4 linked regions of the Homo sapiens genome follow. The protein of the gene in region 1 interacts with the protein of each later gene in a biochemical or structural test. Each region holds a gene or a part of one and is shown in the gene's direction. Other genes may lie near its edges. The genes, in order: RBBP8, USP4, WDHD1 and PAN2.

Region 1 (7,027 bases):
GTGGCCAGGCTGATCTCAAACTCCTGGCCTCAAGTGATCTGCCCACCTCAGCCTCCCAAAGAGCTAGGATTACAGGCAAGAGCCATCTCCCCCAGCCAAAACAATACATTAGTCTATAGTGGTAAATTAATACTGACCATGAATGATAAAAACCCCTCAATATCTGAATCCTTTCTGTTTAATATAATTGAGATAATTTCTTCCTCTAAGAGAAATAAGAAAATTTGCCTGAAAATTTACCTCATATAGCCAAATAACTGAAATCAGAACTTTTCTCACCATTATCATCTTTCCTTATTCTTTCCTTCCCCTCCCAAATTCTAAAAATGATTGATTATAGGTAAATAAGGAAATGGTAAATGAGGATATCTGGGCTTGTGTTTCATCCTGATTTCAAAGTACATAAAGATAAATGCAAAGTTCATTTATGTTGCAATCTGTCATTTCAGGTATTTGACCTGTCCAAAGACGACTTGATACCTCTATAATGTAACAGAAAAGGTCAGAAAATATTAAGCAAGTAGAAGTGTGGAGCATATTAAGCAAGATGAACATCTCGGGAAGCAGCTGTGGAAGCCCTAACTCTGCAGATACATCTAGTGACTTTAAGGACCTTTGGACAAAACTAAAAGAATGTCATGATAGAGAAGTACAAGGTAAAATCTTTTCTTAAATACTTACAGCAGTATTTTGTTGAGACTGTAGTGGCTTTGTATACCTTTGTATGACAGTCCTGTTTATTATTTCTATTTCAGCTTTTAGGTTCCGGGGGTACATGTGCAGATTTGGTACATGGATAGATTGCATGTTGCTGGGGTTTGGTGTGCAAATGATTTCATCACCCAGGTAGTGAGCATGGTACCCCATAGGTAGTTTTTCAATCCCCACCCTCTTCCCACCCCCCTGACCCTCCACCCTCATGTAGGTCCCAGTACCTGTTGTTCCCCTCTTTGTGTCCATGTGTACTAAATGTGTAGCTCCCACTTATAAATGAGAACATGCAGTATTTCTGTTGTCTGCTCAGGGTAATGGCTTCATCTGCATCCATGTTGCTGCAAAGAAAATAATTTTGTTCTTTTTTATGGCTTCATTGTATTCCATGATGTATATATACTTTTTTTTAATTCAGTCCACTGTTGAATTTTGTACATTTAATGGCCATCTTTAAATTCAAAGATATCTTTTTTTTTTTTTTATTTTTTTTGAGACAGGGTCTCACTGTGTCACCAGGCTGGGGTGTAGTGGTGTGATCACAGCTCACTGCAGCTTCAACCTCCCATTCTCAAGTGAGCCTCCCTCCTGTAGTTGGGACCATAGGCACACGCTGCCATGCCTGGCTAATTTTTTATTTTTTGTAGAGTCAGGGTCTCACTATGTTGCCCAGGCTGGTCTTGAACTCCTGGCCTCAAGTGATCCTTCTGTCTCTGCCTCCCAAAGTGGTGGGATTACAGACGTGAGCCACTGCGCCTGGCCCAAAGATCTCATTATTTATTTATTTATTTATATATTCATGTATTTATTTATTTACTAATTAATTTTCAGAGAGGTTCTCACTCCGTTGCCCAGGCTGGAGTGCAGTGGTATGGTCACAGCTCACTGCAGCTTTAACCTCCCAGGCTCAGGTGTTCCTCCCACCTTAGCCTCCTGGGTACCTGGGACTACAGGTGTGCACCACCACGCCCAGCTAATTTTATGTATTTTTTGTAGAGACAGAGTTTTGCCTTTTTGCCCAGGCTGGTCTTGAACTTCTGGGCTCAAGCAGTCCACTGGCCTCAGCCTCCCAAAGTGCTAGGATTACAGGTGTCCGCTGCTGTGCCCAGCTGATCTTTTTTTCTTTTTCTTTTTGAGACAGGGTCTTGCTTTGTCACCCATGCTGGAGTGCAGTGGTGCAAACATGGCTCACTATAGTGTCAAACTCTCGGGCCCAAGTGATTGTCCCACCTCATCCTCCCAAGTAGTTGGGACTACAGGCGCACGCACCATGCCCAGCTAGTTTGTTTTTGTTTTTGTTTTTTTTAAACTTATCCTTCACCTTAGAACACCTAGCTAGTTTTTGTATTTTTTGTGGAGTCAGGGTTTCGCTATGTTGCCCAGGCTGGTCTCAAACTCCTGAGTTCAGGTGATCTCCCGCCTTGGCCTCCCAAACAGCTAGGATTACAGGCGTGAGCTGCGCCCAGCCAGATCTCATTTTTAGAGGACATTTACAATTGTAGTTTTTGTGATTCATTTTTATGGTCAAATTGGTGCTTTTTAACCACAGAACATAGTTTGTATACAACTTGCTGTTATTTACTTGTGGTAATATGTATGAGATAGTGGAAAACGTATACAATTTGTTGACTGAAGACCTGCATTTGAATTCTGATTTCATTTACCCACTTGCTCTGTGATCTTAGCCTAATTACCTAACCTCTAAATTTAATTTTCTTCTATAAAATTCTTTGCAGGATATAGACATAAAAATACTACATAAAGTCATTTGACAAACCCGTAGCACTGAAATACAAAAGTGAATGGCCACTTACCTTCAGACAGCCTGCAGTCTTAGTAGAGTCGTGTAAACAGATAATTACAGTACAGTGAAATAACAGTTAAAAGGTTTTTATGACGTGCAAGGAGTTTTAGAGGATTAAGCAATTGTGGTTGAGATGAGTAAATATTATTTGTGTTAAAAGATACACCATATGAAGCTAAGCTCAAGGTTTTAATATTAAATTTTAATATACTTTAATTCTGTAACTTTCCCTATGTCCCTATGTATGAGAAATGCTTCATATTACATTTGTTTCTTGATTACCTATTATAAGTTTAATATTGCAGTGCTTTATAGCTGTATCATTACACTGGAGTACTATTAAAACATAATCAACCTGAATCTAAAGTGTAGTATGTGAGTCTGTATTAGAACTTTCTTATGGTAGGCTGGGCACGGTGGCTCACGCCTGTAATCCCAGTGCTTTGGGAGGCCAAGGTGGGCGGATCACCTGAGGTCAGGAGTTCGAGACCAGCCTGACCAACATAGAGAAACCCTGTCTCTACTAAAAATACAAAATTAGCCGGGTGTGGTGGTGCGCACCTGTAATCCCCGCTACTCAGGAAGGCTGAGGCAGGAGAATCGCTTGAACCCAGGAGAATCGTTTGAACCCAGGAGGCGGAGGTTGCAGTGAGCTGAGATCACGCTATTGCACTCCACCCTGGGCAACAAGAGCGAAACTCCGTCTCAAAAAAAAAAAGAACTTTCCCATGGTAAGTTTAGTTTCTTGCAAAACTTCTGGTGACACCCTTATTAATTAATGAGTTTTGAAATATGAACAACCCCAAAAGTATTCTTTCAAGCCCCAGTGTTCATGGAGACACAAAGAAATGTTCAAGAAATGTTTTTTGGGCACTTACTATGTGCCAGACCTTGTGAATAAGAATAAATCCTATATAGTGCTAGCTTTAAGGGAATTTCTAGTCTAGAATTTTAATGCAGTATACTATGTTATTATCTGAAAACATGAAGGAAGAACTGAGGGTGTGTGTGGTTGCATGGGGAAGTGGGTTTGTGCATGGTTTATGTCAGACCAGGCTTGATAATTAAGTCTAATTAGCCAGGCAAGGAAGATGGTGGAAGGGGAGGGAATTTTCTGAGTAGAGAGAATAGCACATGCAAAAGTTTGCAGATAAGAGCTTGATTTTATTCAAGGAACTCTGGATAGTTAGGTTTAGTTCTAAGAGGAAATGGAATGGGAGATTGGAGTTTTGGGGGAGGTGGATAGGATATGATGCTAGAAATGTACATAGATCCAAATTATGTAAAATGGTATGTGCTATGCTGAAGAGATTGTCATCTTGCCTTGACTTTAGGACAGATTTCTCTATTTCTGCAAAAAATGTTGGGATTTTGGGATTTGGGATTTTGATAGGTAATGCATTGAATCTGTAGATTGCTTTATATAGTATTGACATCTTAACAATATTGTTTTGTAGTCCATGAACACGGGATACCTTTCTATTAGTGTCTTCTATATTTCTTTTTTTTTTTTTTTTTTGAGACAGAGTCTTGCTCTGTAGCCCAGGCTGGAGTGCAGTGGCGCGATCTCGGCTCACTGCAAGCTCCACCTCCTGGATTCATGCCATTCTCCTGCCTCAGCCTCCTGACTAGCTGGGACTACAAGCACCCGCCACCACGCCCGGCTAATTTTTTGTATTTTTAGTAGAGACGGGGTTTCACTGTGTTAGCCAGGATGGTGTCGATCTCCCGACCTCGTGATCCGCCCGCCTCAGCCTCCCAAAGTGCTGGGATTACAGGCGTGAGCCACTGCGCCCGGTCTATATTTCTTTTTAAGATTTTTTAATTTTTAATTACTAATTTTTAGAGATGAGGTCTTGCCTCATTGCCCAGGCTTGAGTGCAGTGGCACAATCATGGTTCGCCGTAGCCTCAAATTCCAGGGTGCAGGCAATCCTTCCGCTTCCACCTTCAGAGTAGCTAGGACTACAGGCATGCACCACCGAACCTGGCTAATTTATTTTTTTATAGAGACAGGGATCTCATTTTGTTGCCCAGGCTAGTCTCAACTCCTGGGCTCAAGCAGTCCTCTGACCTCATTGGCCTCCAAAAGTGCTAGGATTACAGGTGTGAGCCACCACACCTGGTCATTCTATAATTTCTTTCAGCAACATTTTCTGATTGTCATTGTACAAGTTTTTTGTCTCCTTGGTGAAATGTATTCTTAAGTATTTTATTCTTTTGATGCTACTGTAAATAGAATTGTTTTTTTAATTTGCTTTTCAGATTGTTCATTGTTAGTGTATAGAAATACAACTGGTTTTAGTGAGTTGATTTTATATTCTGCAACTTTCTTGAAACTCTTGATTTCTATTTTTGTTTTTTATGTTTTGAAACAGAGTCTCACTCTGTCACCCAGGCTGGAGTGCAGTGGCATGATCGCAGCTCACTGCAACCTCTGCCTCCCAGGTTGAAGCAGTTCTCCTGGCTCAGCCCCGCAAGTAGCTGGGACTACAGGCACGCACCACCACTCCTGGCTAATTTTTGTATTTTTAGTAGAGATGAGGTTTCACCATGTTGGCCAGGCTGGTCTTGAATTGCTGACCTCAAGCAAGCCGCCCATCTCGGCCTCCCAAAGTGCTAGGATTACAGGCAGGAGCCACTGTGCCTGGCTATTTATAAGCTATTAATTTAATAGAAATAAAATATTTGACAGATTTCTTCTTCCTATTCTTTGGTGTTACAGGATCTTCATGAAATCCCTATTTTACAGTGAGGAAGCATCAAGAAACAAATGGTATACTCTTTAATAGGAACAATATGCCATATTTATCAAATTATAGAATATATAAAGCTTGCAAATATTATGTAGTAGATAATTCCTTTAAAGTGTACTCCTCATGGTTATGTTCTAATCACATTCCCACAAAAGTTTCTATACTCTGAATAACTTTAAGGGAGGAATACAGTAATTGTTGGTGTATATGATAAGGTCCATGTGTTTTATGAATATTAGGTATTGGATATATGAGCTCATAAGAGAAGATAATCTTTGGTACGTTATATTGATCATGCCACTTTCCCAATTTCAAATAACTTATGGATTCTTAAAGGTATTAAATGAATAAGTACTATTTTTTAAGTAGATATGTCATTTTAAAACATTTTGGTTTGGGCCATGCCTTCGTCAATATGTTCCACATAGTTCCATATAAAATTAGAGTCTCTATATGATAACATCAAAGACATGCCTGAAGGGAACTTAATTTTTTTAAGGAGGTGGGGAATCCATTTGTAGAAACCAGTGTAAGAAGCTGTTTGAAAGACATCAAACATGGACTTGTCTGGACTTTGCAGGTTTTAAGGTATATATAGGAATCAAAATTGACTCATGACTTTTAAAGCTTCATGTCAGTAAAAAATAAAAGAGAAATGTTGGGAATGGTAATATTTGAGATATATAGTTTTTACTTAGCTACAGAAATGTACCCATAGGAACTTGCTTGAATCTGAATGCTCTGCTACACGTGTTTAGAATTATTTTTGCCTCTTTTGCCAAAACATAATAAAATGATAGCAAAATATGACAGTATGTGCACTGATCACAACAATATAATAAACTGCATCCATGTCTTTTAAAACTAGGCAAGAATAGACAAAATGCTCTAATTTCTGTTGGAGACTAGCAATATGCAAACCAGACCATTTTTGTTGAAAAATTCTGGAGACATTTATGACCGAGTTTTTATATCCTTTAAGATAATTTTATCCTTTCATGATTGTATCATTTCATGATATGTTCCTTTTGTGACAAATGCTGCTAGTATCAGTGTCACAGATTGTTACTGATGATATACAGTGTTTATGCTTTAAATTCCGAACTCACAGAATTTAATGGAAACTTCAGAATTCTTTAAATTTCAAAAGTTTTAAAGCATATTTATTTGGGTACAAAATTTTATTGCCTTTAAAAATCTTTTTCAGTATCAAGTTTATTATCAAAAGCACAAATAATAAAATAGAATTTAAAATATTTATTTTCAGAATACCACTATTTTAATAAATGATCTTTTGCCTATGCCAGCGTCTGCTATTAACATCTAGCTAATATATTTTCTGTGTCTAGTAAATATGGTAATCAGTTTCAAAGAAAACTAGGTAGGTTTTGTGAGGCAAAGTTGAAACACCTTGAAGAAATGGGAAAGTTTGGGGGCTCTAATAGGACAGGATAAATATTTCTTGATTCATTTTTTAATTGCTCCATTTATTTTCTATACATAGAATCAAAAATTCTAAAAAGAGAACATTATCTTAAGACTGCACAAATTAACAGTGAAAGGAATTGTCCCACTCATTATTAAGAATGCTGTCAGGCTGGGCACAGTGGCACACACTTGGGAGGCCAAGGCAGGAGGATTACTTGAGTCCGGGAGTCTGAGACCAGCCTGGACAACAAAGCGAGACCCTGTCTCTACAAAAAACATTTTTTTAATTAGCTAGGCATGGTGGTGTGTGCCTGTGGTCCCAGCTACTT
Region 2 (7,027 bases), on another chromosome or scaffold:
ACCAGGTTCAAGTAATTCTCCTGCCTCAGCCTCCTGAGTAGCTGGGATACAGGTGCCCGTCCCTCCACCTGGCTAATTTTTGTATTTTTAGTAGAGACCAGGTTTCACCATGTTGGCCAGGCTGGTCTCAAACTTCTGACCTCAAGTGATCCTCCCGCCTCAGCCTGCCGAAGTGCTGGGATTACAGGCCTGAGCCAGCGTGCCTGATTTGATTTCAACTTTCAAGTCTTATTATTTAAGAAATACATTTTATAAGACTTTATCTGCCATAGATAGTGATTCTCCTGAAGGATCTGGGCAAATTAAATTGAAAACCTTTTGGAAAGGATTTACCATTCTAGATGCCATTAAGAATATTCATGATTCCACCTGGTGCAGTGGCTTATACCTATAATCCCAGGACTTTGGCAGGCTGAAGTAGGTGGATCCTTTGAACCCAGGAATTGGAGACTAGGGTGGGCAACTTGGCAAAACCCCATCCCTATAAAAAATACGAAAATTAGCTAGGCCTGGTGGCATGCACCTGTAGTTCTAGCTACTTGGGAGACTAAGGCAGGAGGATTGCTTGAGTCTGGGAGGTCGAAGCTGCAGTGAGCTGTAATCATGCCACTGCACTTCAGCCTGGGTGATAGAGTAAGGCCTGCCACTCCCACCTGCCCACACACACACACAAAAATATTCATGATTCATGGGAGGTCAAAATCAACATTAATAGGAGTCTGGAAGAAGTTCATTCCAACACTTACGGATGACTTCAACGGGCTCAAGACATCAGTGGGAGAAGTAACAGCAAAAGTGGAAATAGCAAGAGAACTAGAATTAGAAGTGAAGCCTGAAGATGTGACTGAATTGCTTTATTTTTTATTTTTACTTTTATTTTTATTTTTTTTGAGATGGAGTTTCGCTGTGTCACCCAGGCTGGAGTGCAGTGGCGCAATCTTGGCTCACTGCAACCTCCGCCTCCTGGGTTCAAACAATTCTCCTGCCTCAGCCTCCCAAGTAGCTGGGCTACAGGTGTGCACCACCATGCCCAGCTAATTTTTGTGTTTGTAGTAGAGACGGGGTTTCACTACCCTGGCCAGGCTGGTCTTGAACTCCTGACCTCATGATCTGCCCACCTCGGCCTCCGAAAGTGCTGGGATTACAGGTGTGAGCCACTGCGCCTGGCCTATTTTTAATTTTAATTTTTATTTATTTTTATTTCTTTTGAGACAGAGTCTTGCTCTGTCACCCAGGCTGGAGTACAGTGGGGTATCTCGGCTCACTGCAGTCTCCACCTCCTGGGTTCAAGCAATTCTTATGCCTCAGCCTCCCGAGTAGCTGGGACTACAGGCATGCATCACCATGCCCAGCTAATTTTTGTATTTTTACTAGAAATGGGGTTTCACCATGTTGGCCAGGCTGATCTTGAATTCCTGACCTCAAGTGATCTGCCTGCCTCAGCCTCCCAAAGTGCTGGAATTACAGGCATGAGCCAACATGCCCGGCCTGAATTGCTTTAATCTTATGATAAAACTTGAATGGCTGAGGAGTTGCTTCTTATGGGTGAGCAAAGAAAATGGTTTCTTGAGATGGAATCTATGTCTGGTGAAGATGTTATGAGCATTGTTGAAATGACAACAAAGGAACCCTGCCCTGAAAAAGGTGTGTAAACTAGTCGGAGGGATGGTGGGAAACCATAACCACCTCATGTATGATTTATTTATTTTTGAGATGGAGTCTTGCTCTTTCACCAGGCTGGAGTGCAGTGGCGTGATCTTGGCTTACTGCAACCTCTGCCTCCCGGGTTCAAGCAATTCTCCTGCCTCAGCCTCCCGAGTAGCTGGGACTACAGGTGCCCGCTACCACACCCGGCTAATTTTTATATTTTTAGTAGAGACGGGGTTTCACCATGTTGGCCAGGCTGCTCTCAAACTCCTGACCTCATGATCCAACCGCCTCAGCCTCCGAAAGTGCTGATTACAGGTGTGAGCCACCACACCCAGCCTGGAGTTTTTCTTTTTTATCCTCTTCTCTCCCTCCAATTATAGAAGAAATACAAATTCCTCATAAAATCTTCATGGATAAAGAGAAAACATGGATAAAGACAAAAGTCTGCTCTGTATAATGACCAGTGACAGAATTTTGGAATTTCATTCCTGTTTCTTTCTGTAAATAATTTTCTTATTTCTGAAAAGTACATGGAAATCATGTAAAACCATCATTTCTGGGGTAAAGAGCAGTGACTTATGTGCTCTTTTCCTTTTTTAGATCCTGAGAGTCAGACCTTGAAAGAACACTTAATTGATGAATTGGACTATGTATTGGTCCCTACCGAGGCGTGGAATAAACTACTAAACTGGTACGGCTGTGTAGAAGGCCAGCAACCCATCGTCAGAAAAGTGAGTTATGTGAATTGTCCCACCTGCTGGTCACTGTCTGCAGGTGCTTTCTGTTGGACACTGACTAGTGTTTGCTAGGAAAATGAACATACCTCAGTGGTTGAATAGTGGTGCTTGAGGCCTTGTTTCTGGATCTCTTTTTTTTTTGAGATGGAGTCTTGTGCACTTGTCGCCCAGGCTGGAGTGCAACGGCACGATCTCGGCTCACTGCAGCCTCTGGCTCCCAGGTTCAAGTGATTCTCGTGCCTCAGCCTCCTGAGTAGCTGGGATTACAGGCGCCTTTCACTACGCCTGGCCAATTTTTGTATTTTTAGTAGAGACGGGGTTTCGCCATGTTGGCCAGTCTGGTCTCAAACTCTTGACCTTGTGATCCGCCCGACTCGGCCCCCCAAAGTGGTGGGATTACAGGCGTGAGCCACTACGCCCAGCCTGTTTCTGGTTCTCTTTAGGAAATTGTGGTTGTGAGTGAAGTTGCTCACCCAGAATATTATCATGAGTGGCCTCTAAACATCAGAGCTGCCCAGTGGCTTGGAATGTGCCCAGCAGCGCTGTGAGAGAACTTTCTGGAAAATTCTATGAGAGAAAGTTCACTGGGGGCATATGGACATATAGCTAATGTCCTGCATCTTGTTTATCTTAAAAAACCTTTATGATACTGCTTTTCCCTCTATGCTTAAGAGTCTTTGAGCTAGGCGCAGTGGCTCACATCTGTAATCCCAGCACTTTGGGAGGTTGAGGCGGGTGGATCACGAGGTCAGGAGATCAAGACCACCCTGGCCAACATGGTGAAACCTCGTCTCTGCTAAAAATCCAAAAATTAACTGGGTGTGGTGGCACATACCTGTAGTCCCAGCTACTCGGGAGGCTGAGGCAGGAGAATTGCTTGAACCCAGGAGACGGAGGTTGCAGTAAGCCGAGATCACCCCACTGTACTGCAGCCTGGCAACAGAGTGAGACTCGGTTGCAAAAAAAAAAAAAGAGTCTTTGATCAGGCCGTGCATGGTGGCTCACGCCTGTAATCCCAGCACTTTGGGAGGCTGAGGCAGGCGGATCACGAGGTTAAGAGATCGAGACCATCCTGGCCAACATGGTGAAATCCTGTCTCTACTAAAAATACAAAAATTAGCTGGGCATGATGGTGGGCCCCTGTAGTCCCAGCTACTCGGGAGGCTGAGGCAGGAGAATCTCTTGAACCCAGGAGGTGCAGGTTGTAATGAGCTGAGATCGCACCACTGCACTCCAGGCTGCTGACGGAGGAAGACTCCATCTCAAAAACAAAAAACAGTGAAGAATAGGCTTCTCTCTAATATCATCAAGATGCTCTTGGTCTTAGTGGGTAGAAAAAAAATATATATATATTTTTTTGCGGGGTACAGAGTCTCGCTCTGTCGCCCAGGCTGGAGTGCAGTGGAGCGATCTTGGCTCACTGCAGCCTCCACCTCCTGGGTTCAAGCGATTCCCCTGTCTCAGCCTCCTGAGTAGTTGGGATTACAGGCACATGCCACCATGCCCGGCTAATTTTTGTATTTTTCATAGAAATGGGGTTTCACCATGTTGGTCAGGCTGGTCTCAAATTCCTGACCTCAAGTGATCCACCCACCTCGGCCTCCCAGAGTGTTGAGATTACAAGCGTGAGCCACCACACGCGGCCAGAAAAAATATTTTTAAACTCTTTGTCCAGGTACTGGTAGCTTTAAAAATCTGTTCTTTTGATCCCTTGATCAGTAAAGGAAATGGATTATCATGAGTTTTCTGCTTTTTGCTTCTGATAAGATATGCTACATCCAAGACTGCCCAGCTGCAAAACCGCTATGCCCTCACCCCTGCCTCTTGTTCATAGGTTGTGGAGCATGGCCTGTTTGTCAAGCACTGCAAAGTCGAGGTGTATTTGCTGGAACTGAAGCTCTGTGAGAACAGTGACCCCACCAATGTGCTGAGTTGCCATTTCAGCAAGGCAGACACCATTGGTGAGAGGCTGGGCTGGGGTCCCTGGTATGTGGTGAGAGAGTGTAGGACATTGTGGCTGATGGGAGGGAAGAGGGCATTATTTTATATGCCCTCTTTAGATTTGTTACCCAAATCATCTCGAGCTGTAGTTGCCAGTCCTGACCTGGGGGCCTATTCCTCCAGGAATTCTTATGGAGAGAACACTGGGCCTGCTCCTTGCCCATTTGTCTATGATAATGAAGATAAGGAAATGTAGATCCAAAGAAGTTTAAAAATAACTTATTTAAAAATCTCAGCAAGGTTTACAGTGAGCTACGATCCCACCACTGCACTGCAGCCTGGGCATCAGAGCAAGATCCTGTCTCTTAAAAAAAAAAACAAATCGCAGCCAGAAAATGGTGGAGCTAGCTTTTGAAGCCATATCTGAGTTAACTCCAAAGATAAGCTTTCTCGCTTTCTATGTTGCTTTTGCGCCATAAATGAGAGACACACGTTAGCAAAGAAGCATAGGGATACTTTCCAGGCATATGAGTGCAAGAGGCCACCCATGGGAGATGATTGATTTTAAGAGGTATCAGGGGGTTGATCCAGAGCACCTGTGAGCATCTGACAAGAAAGAGGATGAGCATTAGTTTGCCATGGCTGTCTTTAGCCTTGCATGTGGACAAAGCCCCAAGTGATATTTCTGCCTGTTCCTAGCAACCATCGAGAAAGAGATGCGGAAGCTATTCAACATCCCTGCGGAGCGTGAAACACGGCTCTGGAACAAATACATGAGCAACACCTACGAGCAGTTGAGCAAGCTAGACAACACTGTCCAGGATGCTGGGCTATACCAGGGTCAGGTAGGAGGGCCCTGGCCATTCCCCAGCAGGTAGCTCTGCCCAGGGTGTGTGGCCAGATACTTTTTGCTTCTAAGCATGTTGGAAGTGCGGTGGTTTGAACTCTCCTCATTTGGTTTCCCCTTTCACTCAGGTGCTAGTAATTGAGCCTCAAAATGAAGATGGCACATGGCCCAGGCAGACCTTGCAGTCAAAGTAAGTGAATTTTTTCTCCCTTGTTGTAGGCTCACATGTGCAAAAGAGACAGTCTTTCCTAAGGCAGTACTTGTACTAAGAAAAATTGTTCTGATTCAGATGAACAATGCCTATTTTGTATATCCAGAGTTCATGCTTCTGGATGAAGACCGTGGCTTTTGGTAGCAGGGCAGCATCTAAGGGAAGCCTGTCAGGATATCTCAGCAAGGTGGCGAGCCTCTGCTCGTGGAGAATGAGAAAAGGAGGAAGGGATATGAGGGATCAAGTCTAAGGTTGCTGCTCTACCAGGAGGTTGCTTTGTTTTTGTCACGCTTTTATTTTCTCCACATGTAGTTAGAGGCCTTGATGGATAAGAGGAAGGCTAAGGCATGGGGTTTTATATGACTTAAAAGTGATAGTTGAGGCCTGAGCATGGTGGCTCATGCCTGTAAGCTCAGCACTTTGAGAGGCCGTGGGAGGTGGCTCACCTGAGGCCAGGAGTTCGAGCCCAGCCTGGTCAACATGGTAAAACCCTGTCTCTACTAAAAATACAAAAATTAGCTAGGCATGGTGGCAGGTACCTGTAATCTCAGCTACTCGGGAGGCTGAGGCTCAAGAGTCGCTTGAATCCAGGAGGTGAAGGCTGCAGTGAGCTGAGATCGCACCATTATACTCCAGCCTAGGTGACAGTGCAAGACTCTGACCCAAAAAAAACAAAAACAAAAAAAAAGTGATAGCTTGATTCTACCTGTTTCTGCCCAGTGGCCTGTTACTCATTGTTGCCCTGGGAGCTTGCTGGGTGAATTGTTCAGCTACAAAACTTGGACTAAGGACACATCTGTTTCAAGAGATGTTCATGTGGTATGTGGAACTGTGCATGTTCTTAGGGAGATAAAGAAGTGATTAATTTTCGTTATGGTATAAGTTTTGGAAATTATATCTGTGTTCCAGTAGTTATGGGAATAATGTTGCGCTCTGTCCTTTTCCCTCTGTCAGGCCTTGGACTGTGACCATTACATAGTAGTGGGCTCCTAGGTCATTTGAGAACCATGAAAACTATGAGTTCTTAAGAGAAGAACTGTTAGAACCCCTGAAGTCCAGTCATGGACTCCAGTTTAAGAAACCCCGGTTGCCAGTTGTTGACAAGATAAATAAAATAGCTGTGGTAGGCATAGCTGTGCTCATCTTCACCCTGAGATATCCATATCCTAATTCCCAGAATCTGTTTCAGAATCTGTCATTATGTCAGGTGACATGGCAAAAGGGACTTTGCAGATGGGATTAAGCACAATGGTGAGTGCCTGTAGTCCCAGCTACCTGACAGGCTGAGGTGGGAGCATTGCTTGAGTCCAGGAGTTTGAGGCTGCAGTGAGCTATGATTCTGCCATTGCCCTCCAGCCTGGGCGACAGCAAGACCCCATCTCTTTTTTTTTTTTTTTTTTTTTTTTTTTAAAAAGGCCAGGAGCAGTGGCTCATGCCTGTAATCCCAGCACTTTGGGAGGCCGAGGTGGGCGGCTCACCTGAGGTTGAGAGTTTGAGACCAGCCTGACCAACATGGAGAAACCCTGTCTCTACTAAAAATGCAAAATTAGCCAGGCGTGGTGGTGCATATCTGTAATTTCAGCTACTTGGGAGGCTGAGGCAGGAGAATCGCTTGAACCCGGGAGGCGGAGGTTGCAGGGA
Region 3 (7,027 bases), on another chromosome or scaffold:
GCCAAGCATGTGGTTGACCTTAGAGTATGTTCCATGTGCAGCTTCATCAGCATTTATCTTGGTGATAACATGGATTCCATGACAGGTATTAATGGTACAATTTTTATGTTTTAAAAGTGGTAGTTTGCTAAGGAAAATATGAAGAGAGCTGATTTCACTTTTAGTGGTTGTCATTTAATAAAGTGAGATGTGAGGTTGGGCAGGGTAGCTCACGCCTGTAATCCCAACACTTTGGGAGGCAAAGGTGGGAGGCACACTTTAGCCCAGGAGTTCGAGTCCAGCCTGGGCAACATGGCAAAACCCCATCGCTACTGAAAATACAAAAGTTAGCCAGGCATGGTGGCATATATCTGTAGTCCCAGCTACTTGGGAGGCTGAGGTGGGAGGATTGCTTGAACTTGGGAGGTTGGGGCTTCAGTGAGCCGTGATCACACCACCGTGCTTTAGCCTGGGCAACACAGTGAGACCCTGTCTCAAAAAAAATAAATCAAGTGAGATGTGAGAAGGAATTTTTCTATTCTTGAAATGCATGTAGGGATAGTCTTTATGCCTAGTCAAGCCTAAAACACTTTTTTAAAAAGAGATATTTGTTATATATGATTAAGGCAGCTATTATAATATTACTATTCTAAGTTACTAACTTTTGAAAACTTTTTAAATTTTGTAGTTTTTATGACATGTTAGTAAATTTTTATGATGGAACTTTTCTTTACTAACAGGTGCATTCCTTGTAAAGGTTCTCGGTTTCCCCCAACCCTTCCACGCCCTGCTGTTGCTATATTATCCTTTAAGCTTCCTTACTGTCAGATTGCAACAGAGAAAGGACAAATGGAGGTATGTGGAAGTCTTACCTTGACACTTTGAATTTGATAATACAGCACCTGTGATACACACACTTTAAAATTATCCTGATGGCCAGTATTGAATATTCATTACTGTATAATTACATAAATAGGGGTAGCAGGGAGGGAAGAGGACTGCTTGGGATCACCAGGCCACCTGATTGCCATCACTGCTTCCAGGGACTTTGTCTACAAAGTAAATGGGTGTGACTGTCAGAGACCCACTGGGGAAAGACTTACTCTCAGGATGGGGCATGTCCCTGAGAAGAAGTGCCTCCATACATTTTGTGCCATAACACCTGGCTTGCCTGACCCTAGTCCTAGCCTTGTGTCATCAAAAGTCATTTGAAATCTTGCAGTTAGTTATTCTAAATAAGAAACAAGTTAGCTTTTAAAAATCTTGTTTACCAAATTCTCTGAGCATTAATTATGATAGCTAGGAAACTGTTTTAAATGCTGTATTCCTCCCCAGCTGCCTTTTTTAAGGATAGGGGAAAAAGTTAAGCTGTAGTATCACACTAGAATTTAAATTGTAAAATAAACTTATAGAAAGGAAGAGTTCAGAACATATTTTATTCAAAAACTGGTATCTTAAGATAAATATTTAACGCTTGCCTCATATTAAGGTGATAGTTGGCCTTAAGCAATTTTATTTGCTTTTATAGGAGCAATTTTGGCGTTCAGTTATATTTCACAACCACCTTGATTATTTAGCTAAAAATGGTTATGAATATGAAGAGAGCACTAAAAATCAAGCAACAAAAGAGCAACAGGAACTTTTAATGAAAATGCTTGCGGTGAGTAAAATAAATATACTGAAAACGTTAAAGTTAAATGCTTTTCTATAGGTTGAATTTCTTAAAGGTCTGTGCATTAGGACTAAGTCCCACAACCTAAGATTCTTAAGTTTTTTTTTGTTGTTGTTGTTGTTTTTTGTGCGACGGAGTCTCGTTCTGTCACCCAGGCTGGAGTGCAGTGGTGCGATCTCGGCTCACTGCAACCTCTGCCTCCCGGGTTCACGCAATTCTGCCTCAGCCTCCCGAGTAGCTAGGATTACAGGCACACACCACCACGCCTAGCTAATTTTTTTTTTTTTTTTTTTTTTTTAGTAGAGATGGGGTTTCCCTATGTTGGCCCGACTGGTCTCGAACTCCTGACCTCGTGATCCGCCCGCCTCAGCCTCCCAAAGTGCTGGGATTACAGGTGTGAGCCACCACACCCAGCCATTCTTAAGTTTTATCTGGTGGTGTTTTCCCTTGTAAAGTTCTATCTTCTAGTTGGTCTTGCAGTTAAAATTTTTTTCTTTTTTTTTTTTTAGGCGGAGTTTCGCTCTTGTTTCTCAGGCTGAAGTGCAGTTGTGCAGTCTTGGCTTACTGCAACCTCCACTTCCCGGGTTCAAGTGATTCTCCTGCCTCAACCTTCCGAGTAGCTGGGACTACAGGCGTGTGCCACCATGCCTGGCTAATTTTTGTATTTTTAGTAGAAACAGGGTTTCACCACATTGGTCAGGCTGGTCTTGAACTCCTGACCTCAGGTAATTCACCTGCCTCGGCCTCCGAAAGTGCTGGGATCACAGGCATGAGCCACCGTGCCCAGCCTAAAATAAATAAAACAGTACCTTGTAGCTAAGATCATGTGCAGGAATAAACATCTCTAGGGCTACTTCCCTTTTGCTTTTGCCCATCAGTCTATGTTTTAACGGGCTCTCAAGGTAACTGAGAACCACTGCTCTAGTTTCTGTTATTATTTTACAAAGTTTGAGTATATACTGTTTTTTAATCTCCAGGGCTGGGCAATCTTAAGAACTTTGATCGGGCTGTTAGATATGCCTGCCTTTTGTCATCCTCTTTGAGTTAGGCAGCTGTGTGTGATGAAAATTTATTTGTGACCAGTGGCCAGGTTTGGTGTCTAGAATATTTAAGTACATTTATCTTTGGAGCAGGGTGTCTTAAAGTTCCTGTGCTTGTGTCCCCACTCAAGGTTGGTTTATGGAGAGGAGTATAGTATCATTTCTTCTTTATTTGTCTTACACTAGACTTTATGCCCCAGAGGGCAGAGACCTGCTCACTGCTGTATGCCAGGCACTGACATGGTGGCTTAACACATAGTAGACCTCGATATTTGTTGACAAGAGTGAATGGTCCAGACTTTTAATTTTAAAATTGGAGAAAAAAGGTTCTTAGAGAAAAGTGGTATATGAGACCACAGAGCAAATTGCCACTCTTGTCTCCAAAAGGTAGTACTCACTACTGTCACCTTTATGCAACATGGCCTTAAGTTTGGTATTAAGAAAACTCAGTTTATTGTAGAAAAAGTTTTATTCCTTTTATAAAGTGTTACTTGTGGTCCAGGAACTAGTAGCCTTTTTATTTGTACAACACATATAAGGAAACATATTTCATGTATTTGCTATTTAGCCTAGAGGAGCTTTTCCCTGTGGCAGTGTTTCTCATATCAAAAATACCAGGGGACTCATATCAAAGATGCCAGGGCAGGAGGATATCTTGAGCCCAGGAGTTCAAGGGGATTGTTGAGTTCTTCTTTAGCATTCCTGACCCCCGGGCAAATGCCTTTAGTTCAGAATAGTCACTGTGGAAACCAGACTATTCCTTTTTATTTCTTTTTTTTTTTTTGAAACGAAGTCTCGCTCTGTTGCCCAGGCTGGAGTGCAGTGGCGCGATCTCTGCTCACTGCAAGCTCCGCCTCCCAGGTTCACGCCATTCTCCTGCCTCAGCCTCCCGAGTAGCTGGGACTACAGTTGTCTGCCACCACACCAGCTAATTTTTTGTATTTTTAATAGAGACTGTGTTTCACCGTGTTAGCCAGTATGGTCTCGATCTCCTGACCTTGTGATCCACCTGTCTCAGTCTCCCAAAGTGCTAGGATTACAGGTGTGAGCCACTGCGCCCGGCTTCCTTTTTATTTCTAAATGCCCCCTGAGGCAGTGTACCATCCCGATTAAGAAGTACTGATTATAGATAAATGATACTAAAAATCTTGAAAAGGGCATCCAGGTGAATATCTAAAGCTTTTGTGCTGATGGATCAGACATGGAATATCTAAGTAAGAAAATAGTTCTAATACACTATGAATTAGGAGACCCTTAGTAATCTTCAAAATACCAACTTTTCTCAGTTTGTTGTTTTTCTTTTTTGTATTTTTTAGAGAAAGGGTCTCACTCTGTTACCCAGGCTAGAGTACAGTGGCAAGATTGTAACTCACTGCAGCCTCAACCTCCTGGGCTCTAGTGAACCTCCTGTCTCAGGCTCCTGAGTAGATAAGACTGCAGGTGCATGCCACCACGCCCAGCTAATTTATTTTTTGTAGTTATAGGGTCTCACTGTGTTGCCCAGGTTAGTCTCAAACTCCTGGCCTCTAGCAGTCCCTCTGCCTTGGCCTTCCAAAGTGCTAGGATTACAGGTGTGAGCCAGCACACCTGGCCCCCTTGATTTTTTTTTTTTTTTTTTTTTTTGAGACAGAGTCTCGCTTTCTCGCCCAGGCTGGAGTGCAGTGGTGCAATCTTGGCTCACTGCAACCTCCACCTCCCGGGTTCAAGCGATTCTCCTGCCTCAGCTTCCCGAGTAGCTGGGATTACAGGCGCACGCCACCACGCCTGGCTAATTGTGTTTTTAGTAGAGACGGGGTTTTGCCATATTGGCCAGGCTGATCTCGAACTCCTCACCTCATGATCCACCCATCTGGGCCTCCCAAAGCACTGGTATTACAGGCGTGAGCCACCGTGCCCAGCCTCCCCCTTGAATTTTTTAAACAAATTTCTTAATTTTCTTGCAATTAGTAGATTAAAGTGGTATGTAATATTTCATCAAATCTAAGCCACTGTTTATTGCATAGTGCACCATTACTTTATTCATTTAAGCCATGGAGACATAAAAATGCTGCCAAACTGACCCACCATTAATTGTAATTAATTGTAATTCCAATTTCAGAGATGTTAAAACTTGTAAAAATGTGCATCTTAGAATTAGGGAGATAGAGTAGCTAGAAAACTATTGTCTCAGTTTTACTAGTAGTGTCAGTATCTTTAAAAAGTTTTACTTGATGTTATTTGATCTCCCCCCCCCCCCCCTTTTTGGATTAGCTTTCTTGTAAACTGGAGCGAGAATTCCGTTGTGTGGAACTTGCTGATCTAATGACTCAAAATGCTGTGAATTTAGCCATTAAATATGCTTCTCGCTCTCGGAAATTAATACTGGCTCAAAAACTAAGTGAACTGGCTGTAGAGAAGGCAGCCGAATTGACAGCAACCCAGGTGGAAGAGGAAGAAGAAGAAGAAGATTTCAGAAAAAAGCTGAATGCTGGGTAAGAAATAATTTAGTTGTTTGAATTTTCCTTTACTGTCTTGAATGTTAAGTTGGTCTTTGCATAGCTCTTTATTGAATAATATTATTTTCTCTTAGTTACAGCAATACTGCTACAGAGTGGAGCCAACCAAGGTTCAGAAATCAAGTTGAAGAAGATGCTGAGGACAGTGGAGAAGCTGATGATGAAGAAAAACCAGAAATACATAAGCCTGGTGAGATACATTTTCAAGCCCATAAATCATGAGAACTATCATGGATGTGGCTTTTCCCATTTTGCTTAACTGAGGGAAATTGAATACTCATACTTTTTTTCAGACCTCTTTGCTATCTGGTTGTTGTATATTGAGGATGACTATATTTTCCCCATTTACATTATATTGCTTTATTTTAATCTGTAGGACAGAACTCGTTTTCCAAAAGTACAAATTCCTCTGATGTTTCAGCTAAGTCAGGTGAGAAATATTTATAAATTTGTAATATCAAGGAAATTTTGCAAGTCATCTGCAAAGTGACACATCTACGCAAATACACCTTAACTCTTAAGGCCACTTTTGGTGTGTGTGTGTTTATGTTTTTGTTTTTTTAATCTCAGATGTTGTTTGTGAAGCTATGGTCATTTAACAGATGTTTATAAAATGCCTATTGAGTGTCAGGCATTTTACTTAATGGTGGATACAGAAGTCAAACAGACATGTGTGGTTGATCTCTGTTTTAATGCTATTTTAGCCCAGCTGAGAAGACAGATGTTGAAGACAGATCTGGGTATCACTGAGGAAGCATGCAGGATACTGGAGAAACAGTTAAAAGGAATTGAAGGCTGGGCGCAGTGGCTCACGCCTGTAATCCCAGCACTTTGGGAGGCCGGAGTGGGCGGATAACGAGGTCAGGAGTTCTAGACTAGCCTGGCCAACACGGTGAAACCCCATCTCTACTAAAAATACAAAAATTAGCTGAGGGTGGTGGTATGTGCCTGTAATCCCAGCTACTCGGGAGGCTGAAGCAGGAGAATCACTTGAACTCAGGAGGTGGAGGTAGCAGTGAGCCGAGATCGTGCCATTGCACTCCAGCCTGGGCAATGGAGTGAGACTCCATCTCAAAAAAAAAAAAAAGGAGTTGAAAATGGTTGCGTACAGGGAGTGGGCCTGGGGGATAAGAGAAGGTTGAAGTAAGGCACTGCTGGCCCTTTTTTGGTGGGGAGCATAAACCTTATAGTACCATTTGACTTTTTAAACTGTGGACATATGTTACTTTGATTTAAAAAAATTAACTTAAAAAACATGTAGAATATGAAAAGAGCGTATGACACATAGCTGTCATCTAGCCAGTGGTGGAGGATGGGTAGGGACTTCAAGGCAGGCCTCATGGAGTGTTTACAGCAGAGACCTGAAGGATGAATAACAGTCAGCAAGGCAAAGGTGCATGGGAACAGGAGCAGAAGAGAAGCATTTGGGCTTAAGGAACAGTATGTGTGAACTGAAGGCTGCAAAAGGGTGGTGTGAAAAGCTCAGAGAGCAAAGAGAAAGTGGTGCTGAAGGGTTTCGGAGTGATGGGCAGGAGCCAAGTCATGCAGATCTGTGTAGGCCATATTAAGGATTTTGGTCTTTTTTTTATTTTATTTTATTTTTTTTAATAGAGATGGGGTGTCACTCTGTTGTCCAGGCTGGTCTCAAACTCAAGCAATTTCCTCACCTCCACATCCCAAAGTTGTTGGACCTGCAGGTGTGAGCCACCACACCCGGTCAGGATTTTGCTCTTTATTCTAAGGTCACTGAGAGACTGTTGTAGGTTTTAAGCAGAGGTATAGCATGGCACACTGTGCTGAAGAAGAACAGATAATAGACTACTGGCCAGGTGTGATGGCTC
Region 4 (6,877 bases), on another chromosome or scaffold:
TTTCATCACCCTCCATGATGCAACATCGAGTGAAACAGCTAAGAGTGTGAGGTTGGGCGTGGGAGTGGAAGGTGGTCCAAAGCCGGGACTGCCCCGACCCCAGTGGAGGGTCCCAGAACAATTTCGAAGACGTCAGAATGAGGCCATCGGTGACCACACAGCTGGCTCCCAAAGCCTCCCCCAAGAGGTTGACCCTTTTCTTCTGAGAAACTTGTCCTGAATGGAGGTCTCCCTTCCCTTAGAGCTATTCAAAACTGCCCAATGACACTTCTGGTTCAAATATTATGATTCTGTAGGTATGAGCTAAGAGAAGAAAAAAAAATATTACGATTCTAAGTTAAATCTACCAAGGGCCGGGTACAGTGGCTCACGCCTGTAATCCCAGTACTTTGGGAGGCCGAGGCAGGCGGATCATGAGGTCAGGAGTTCGAGACCAGCCTGGCCATCATGGTGAAATCCTGTCTCTACTAAAAATACAAAAATGAGCCAGCACGGTGGTGGGCGCCTATAGTCCCAGCTACTCGGGAGGCTGAGGCAAGAGAATCGCTTGAAGCCAGGAGGCAGAGGTTGCAGTGAGCCGAGATGGCGCCACTGCACTCCAGCCTGGGTGACAGAGCAAGACTCTGTCTCAAAAAAAAAAAAAAAAAAATGGAAATCTACCCTTTAGATTAAACATTTCCAGCATCAGAGAATTATCTGAGTTTGGGTGAGAACTGTTTTGCCTCTCTCCCTAATAAGGTGGACACCAATGGAATAAGGAAAGGGGAGGGGGCAGGATAGGGAGTTCACCTTACTTGTGTACAACGTCTCCTATGTTCTTCCCATCTCTGGTCCCCATTCTGGGAGCCCTAAAAGATAAGAGATGAAAGAAAGATGAAAAGGAGGAGGAAGTAGAGCCTGGGGGATGGGATGAGAGGGACAAGGGTGAGTTGGAGGCACAGGGCTCTGCCTCTTTGTTTCACTTCCTGGTGCTGCAGGAGTTGGGTAGGAAGAAGGGTTGGTGGGGAGATTGTGGGACTGTTGCGTGGCAGGAACTACATCCAGGGCTACAACTGACCTGGAGCTATAAGGAGCCCTTGACGTCAGCTGGGCCTAAACCGTTATGCAAATCGCATTCACAAGACACTCCTAGGCAGGTCTTTCCAGTTGTATGCCTAGACTCCAAATCAGTTGAAGTTCCCCCAGGTGGTTAATAATGATGGCTAATATATCCAACTCTCGCTTAATGCCAAATACTTTGTCTAAGCACTTTACATGTACTAAACTATTTAATTTTCACAACAACCCTTTAAGGTAGATACTATTACCCTATATTACAGAGGAGGAGGCTGAGGTGCAAAGATAAGCAATTTGCCCAAGATCACAGAGCTTCTAAGTGGCTAGAATTCCTTTTTTTTTTTTTTTTTTTTTGAGATGGAGTTTCGCTCTTGTTGCCCAGGCTGGAGTGCAATGGTGCCATCTCATCTCACCGTAACCTCTGCCTCCCGGGTTCAAGTGATTCTCCTGCCTCAGCCTCCCAAGTAGCTGGGATTACAGGCATGCACCACCATGCCCGGTGGCTAATTTTGTATTTTTAGTAGAAACAGGGTTTCTCCATGTTGGTCAGGCTGGTCTTGAACTCCCAATCTCAGGTGATCCACCCGCCTGCGGCCTCCAAAAGTGCTGGGATTACAGGCATGAGCCACCACACCCAGCTTAAGTGGCTAGAGTTCTAATGCAGACAATCTAGCATCAGATCCTGCATTCTTTTTTGTTCTTGGTTTTTGGGGGGTTTTGTTGAGACAGGGTCTCACTCTGTCACCCAGGCTGGAATGCAGTGGCACCATTTCCGTTCACTGCAACCTCCACCCCTGGGACTACAGGCACAAGCCACCATCCCGGTCTGGATCCTGAATTTTTAATCACTGCATTACACTGGATACTGTACGCCAGGTATGGTGGCTCATGCCTGTAATCCCAGAACTTTGGGGGGCCGAGGCAGGAGGATCGCTTGAGCTTAAGAGTTCAAGACCAGCCTGGGTAACGTGGCAAAACCCCACCTCTACAGGAAAAAAAAAATTATCTGGGTTTGGTGGCCAGTGCCTGTAGTTACAGCTAGTTGGGAGGCTGAAGTGGGAGGATCGCTTGAGCCCAGGAGGTTGAGGCTACAGTGAGTGAGAGGGCCAATGCGCTTAAGCATGGGCAACAGAGTGAGATCCTGTCTCAAAAAAAAAAAAAAAAAAAGGCTGGGCGCGGTGGCTCACACCTGTAATCCCAGAACTTTGGGAGGCCGAGGCAGGCAGATCACCATCTAATATTACTGTATTAGAAACAGTAATTACAGCTGAGCTAAATAATCTATGTCATGGATGCTCTTGTGTCTCCTCACAGTATCCTTTTTTCTTTTCTTTTTTTTTTTCTTTTTTTTGAGACGGAGTTTCGCTCTTACTGACCAGGCTGGAGTGCAATGGTGCCATCTCGGCTCACTGCAACCTCCGCCTCCCAGGTTCAAATGATTCTCCTGCCTCAGCCTCCCAAGTAGCTGGGATTACAGGCTCCCGTCACCAGGCCCGGCTAATTTTGTATTTTTAGTGGAGACGGGGTTTCTCCATATTGGTCAGGTTGGTCTCGAACTCCCGACCTCAGGTGATCCGCCCACCTCGGCCTCCCAAAGTGCTGGGATTACAGGCGTGAGCCACTGCGCCCGGCAGACATGGATTATTTAGCCCAGGTTATTAGGGATCTGTAACTCTCATGGGTCTGTTAAGTCTTTCTCAATTTGAGACCTCAAGATGGAGATTTCTTAAAGTGTAGGAACTGTCTATGTCTCTCAGCATCCACCTTTTTCGGAGATTCTATATCTAATGACCTGCGAAGTCAGATCAAATCAGTTTGAGAGACCATCTGTGTTTTTCTCTTGGTCTAGGCTCTAGGTAGGATCTCTGACTGGGTATAGGACCCCACCCCTCTGAGTCCTAGAAATTTAAATTCTTGGTTCCTTTAATGAAGGTCTATTTACCAGCCTTTATTGAGAGAAATGTTATAGAATTGAATCCTCCATGAGGAATGTCTCCCATCAGAGTCCCTTTATGTGGCCTTTAGAAACAGTAATAACAGCTGAGCTAAAGTGCTCTGAGACATCTCACAACCTAGACCCATTTCAAAGTAATTAGAGTTCACAGGACCCACGAATCCTTCAGAATAACAAGTCCCAATTTGCCATGCTCATCCCCCTCTGAGGGATAACGTCCAGCCAGCCTCAAGAGCTAGGGGAATTTGATAACCAGGGGCATCTTGTTACCCGGGAATGTTACCGGGGTCTCTGGGGAGGGAACAATCACGGATGGGAGTTTCAGATGGATGCCTGTAGAAGATGCAGCCACTTGGACTGTGTCAGGAGTCCGGCTCCCGCTTCCTTTTTTTTCTCTCCCATATCTGGAAATAATAGGAAATGCCAGCGAGTTTTGGGGGCAACAGGGTCAGAGGTGGCGGAGTGGCTCACTAGGGCACCGCAGGAAGAGGAGGTAGACTAAGCCCCGCTGGGAATACCCAACAGCGACTCCTAGTGCTTTGCCTTGTGTGTCCCTTATTTTAGAGTTCCTAAAGTTATAGAAAGCATAAAAGTTTGGTTTTCAAACCTAGACGTAATTTTGTTCAAGAAGACTAAAAACAGAGTTACTTTCTAACGCCACCCAACAAGTCCGGCGTCTGGCTGCGTTTGTCCCACCGGCGCCCCGTAACCTCTTTTTCCGGCGCGTGCGTCACACGCTCTCTCCTGGGGTCGCCGTACCTGGCTCCTTCTGATTGGCTTAGATGCGCCCGGAGCCCTTCTGATTGGCTAAAATATGCCCCGAGCCCTTCTTGATTGGAAGAAGCGCCTCGGACCCCGGTCCTTGGCGCCGTAGTGGTTAGGTTGAGCCCTAGGCGTGGGGGAGAACTGGGGAAACTGGAATTTCCCGCGGAGCTGACAGCGCTTGCGCTCCCCCTACTCGTTCTAATTCCACGCGCTCCAAAATATCCGCCATGGAGAAATCTTGGTAATGACCCATTCCCCGTAAGCATCCCAGGAACACATCTGACCCTTGCCCTATCCCCCTCCTCACCGCTGCCGTGGGAGAATTCTAGATAACCGATTTTTCTGGTTCCCCCAGAGAATTCTGGGTAACTAGCCGTTTCCGTCACCTTCCCCTGCCCCCGCCCCAATTGTGGGTAACTGGCCATTATTGTTTTCCTCTAGAGAATCCTGGGTAGCTATTGGAGAGGATTCTAGGAAACTGACTTCTCGTTCTCCCCACCGTCCAATCCACCCGTTTTCACCCCCAATTCTGGGAGAAAGCACCTTAAATCCCTCTACCTAACTCCAACCCCCGCAATTCTCGCTCCCTTCACCTGATGATTCAGGGCTGAACAAGGCAAGTGAGCAGTCCGAAGTGAGAAGAAAGGGAAGTCAAGGATTAGGTTAGATAATGGGGTGGTGGAGAGTACAGAGGGCCTAGCGGAGGAGGGATAGGGACAACAGTTCTACCACCTCCACCCCCACTGCCCATCCCTCCCCCGCCTGCTTCATCCTTTGGCTGGCAGTCTCATCCCTCATGCCTGCCTCATCTCCCTCCTGCCCCCATAACCTAGAAGACCCTAAGTACCAGTACCTGGGCCTACCCTTGACTCAGCTACCTCTTTCCCCTTACAGGCCAGGATGTCCATTCTAGGCCCATCGGTGCTGTCTTGCTGAAGGTTGGGTCAGGCATCTAAAGGGACTGTGGTAAGGGAGGGTGTGACACAGGTGTAAGCTGCCATCGTCATCATGAACTTTGAGGGTCTGGACCCTGGACTGGCAGAATATGCCCCAGCCATGCATTCTGCCCTGGACCCTGTCTTGGATGCCCACCTGAACCCAAGTCTGCTACAGAATGTGGAGCTGGACCCAGAGGGAGTGGCCTTGGAGGCTCTTCCCGTCCAGGAATCAGTGCACATAATGGAAGGTGTCTACTCTGAATTGCACAGCGTGGTGGCTGAAGTGGGTGTACCTGTTTCCGTCTCCCACTTTGACTTGCACGAGGAGATGCTGTGGGTGGGGAGCCACGGGGTAAGAACTGTACCCCTTTGTGAGGGTTGAAAGATGTTGAAGGTCTTTATCTGGTCTTAACCCAAGGAAGCTGCTTTGCAGATAGCCAGTACCGAGGAGTTGTAGTGATGAGACAGCTGGGTCTGGTTGGAGGGATAAAGGGAGAATCTAGGATCTAGGAGTAAATGACATATTCTTTCTCAGGAGGCATCCCTTTTTTTTTTTTTTTTTTTCGAGACAGGGTCTTGCTCTGTCGCCTAGGCCAGAGTGCAATGGCGTAATGTGATCATGGCTCACTGCAGCCTCAATCTCCTGGGCTCACACAATCCTCCCACTTTAGCATCTCAAGTAGCTGGGACTACAGGCATGCGCAACCAAGACCAGCTAATTTTTAAAAAATTTTTTAGTCTTACTATGTTGCCCAGGCTTGTCTCAAACTCCTGAGCTCAAATGGTCCTCCTGCATAGAGCTGCCAAAGTGCTGGGGTTACAGGTGTGAGCCACGGCACCTGGCCAGCATCCCACTTTTGTCACAATTGCCCATCCAGTGTTTTGATTTATCTTGATAGTTGTACCCATCACTTAGTCTGTAGCCATCCAAATCTAATCTCAATTGCTGTTGCCCCACCTGTGTTTTCTATTTTTATTATTATAGAATATTTAATGAATGATTCTGCATATCTTCCATTGAATCATTTTGTCTTCTCTGGCTGATTTTAATATCTCTCAGAGCAGTTATCAATCTTAATTTTTTAAAATCTGTACCCGTATTGCCAATATGCTATGGTGCCCAAAGACTTTGTAAGAAATACTGTGCTGTCCGGCCGGGACCGGTGGCTCACTCCTGTAATCCCAGCACTTTGGGAGGCTGAGGCAGGCGGATCACGAGGTCAGGAGATCGAGACCATCCTGGCTAACATGGTGAAACCCTGTCTCTACTAAAAATGCAAAAAATTAGCTGGGCATGGTGGCAGGCGCCTGTAGTCCCAGCTACTCGGAAGGCTGAGGCAGGAGAATCGCTTGAACCTGGGAGGCAGAGGTTGCAGTGAGCCGAGATCACGCCACTGCACTCCAGCCTGGGTGACAGAGCGAGACTCCGTCTCAAAAAAAAACAAAAAACAAAAAAAAAAAAAACGCTGTCCTTCATTTACTGATTGACTTCTTTGGTCATGAATTGTTTTTCCATTAGAAGGGATGAATTTTTGTGTGTGATTCATTCAGTTTAATAGGCAGTGTCTACTGCTATGCTAGGCACTGTGAATAAAGCTAAATAAAACATAATCCTTGCCCTCAAGGAGTTTACAGGACAGTGAGGTAAAAAACATATACAAAACCAGATAATTTCATGGTACTAAGCGCCAGTGTGAAAATCTGTACTGGATGCTGGACAGGATGGAGAATAGTCAGAAAGGGCATCGAGGAGGAAGTAACCCTTGAACTGAGTCTTGCAACATGAGTAGAAATCAGGTGAGAAAGATGGGAAAAGGCGTCTTAGCATAGGATAAACAAAGATTCCCAAGATACTACAAAGCTTGCTGAGTACAAAATTCAGGAACTACAAGCAATTAGGATTTACCGGACTGGAAGAGGTAGACATTTATTCATTCAACCAGTGTTTTTTTGAGCCACATGCTAGGTGTCAGACCTTGCCCTAAGGTCTAGGTTTGGAATAAGCAGTAAACAGAAAAACATTACAATACATCAGGTGTTGATTAGTACTGTTAAGAAAAATGCTGGCTGGGCATGGTGACTCACACCTGTAATCCCAGCACTTTGGGAGGCCGAAGCAGGCGGATCACCTGAGGTCAGGAATTCAAGACCAACCTGGCCAACA

What was found.
Region 2: the proteins of RBBP8 (region 1) and USP4 form a complex in vitro, tested with the Homo sapiens proteins (one study listed by BioGRID).
Region 3: the proteins of RBBP8 (region 1) and WDHD1 form a complex in vitro, tested with the Homo sapiens proteins (one study listed by BioGRID).
Region 4: of the proteins of RBBP8 (region 1) and PAN2, one has a biochemical effect on the other in vitro, tested with the Homo sapiens proteins (one study listed by BioGRID).

The regions. Positions count from the first base shown.
Region 1 is NC_000018.10:22,936,305-22,943,331, forward strand, and holds part of RBBP8 (DNA endonuclease RBBP8), read left to right. Parts: intron 1-449; 5' UTR 450-547; coding exon 548-656; intron 657-7,027. UniProt on the Homo sapiens protein: Endonuclease that cooperates with the MRE11-RAD50-NBN (MRN) complex in DNA-end resection, the first step of double-strand break (DSB) repair through the homologous recombination (HR) pathway.
Region 2 is NC_000003.12:49,323,040-49,330,066, reverse strand, and holds part of USP4 (ubiquitin carboxyl-terminal hydrolase 4), read left to right. Parts: intron 1-2,250; coding exon 2,251-2,381; intron 2,382-4,221; coding exon 4,222-4,348; intron 4,349-5,027; coding exon 5,028-5,173; intron 5,174-5,303; coding exon 5,304-5,365; intron 5,366-7,027.
Region 3 is NC_000014.9:54,961,087-54,968,113, reverse strand, and holds part of WDHD1 (WD repeat and HMG-box DNA-binding protein 1), read left to right. Parts: intron 1-719; coding exon 720-834; intron 835-1,507; coding exon 1,508-1,639; intron 1,640-4,941; coding exon 4,942-5,162; intron 5,163-5,260; coding exon 5,261-5,376; intron 5,377-5,562; coding exon 5,563-5,616; intron 5,617-7,027. UniProt on the Homo sapiens protein: Core replisome component that acts as a replication initiation factor. Binds directly to the CMG complex and functions as a hub to recruit additional proteins to the replication fork.
Region 4 is NC_000012.12:56,331,001-56,337,877, reverse strand, and holds the start of PAN2 (PAN2-PAN3 deadenylation complex catalytic subunit PAN2), read left to right. Parts: upstream 1-3,877; 5' UTR 3,878-4,016; intron 4,017-4,159; exon of another isoform or gene 4,160-4,391; intron 4,392-4,669; 5' UTR 4,670-4,783; coding exon 4,784-5,065; intron 5,066-6,877. UniProt on the Homo sapiens protein: Catalytic subunit of the poly(A)-nuclease (PAN) deadenylation complex, one of two cytoplasmic mRNA deadenylases involved in general and miRNA-mediated mRNA turnover.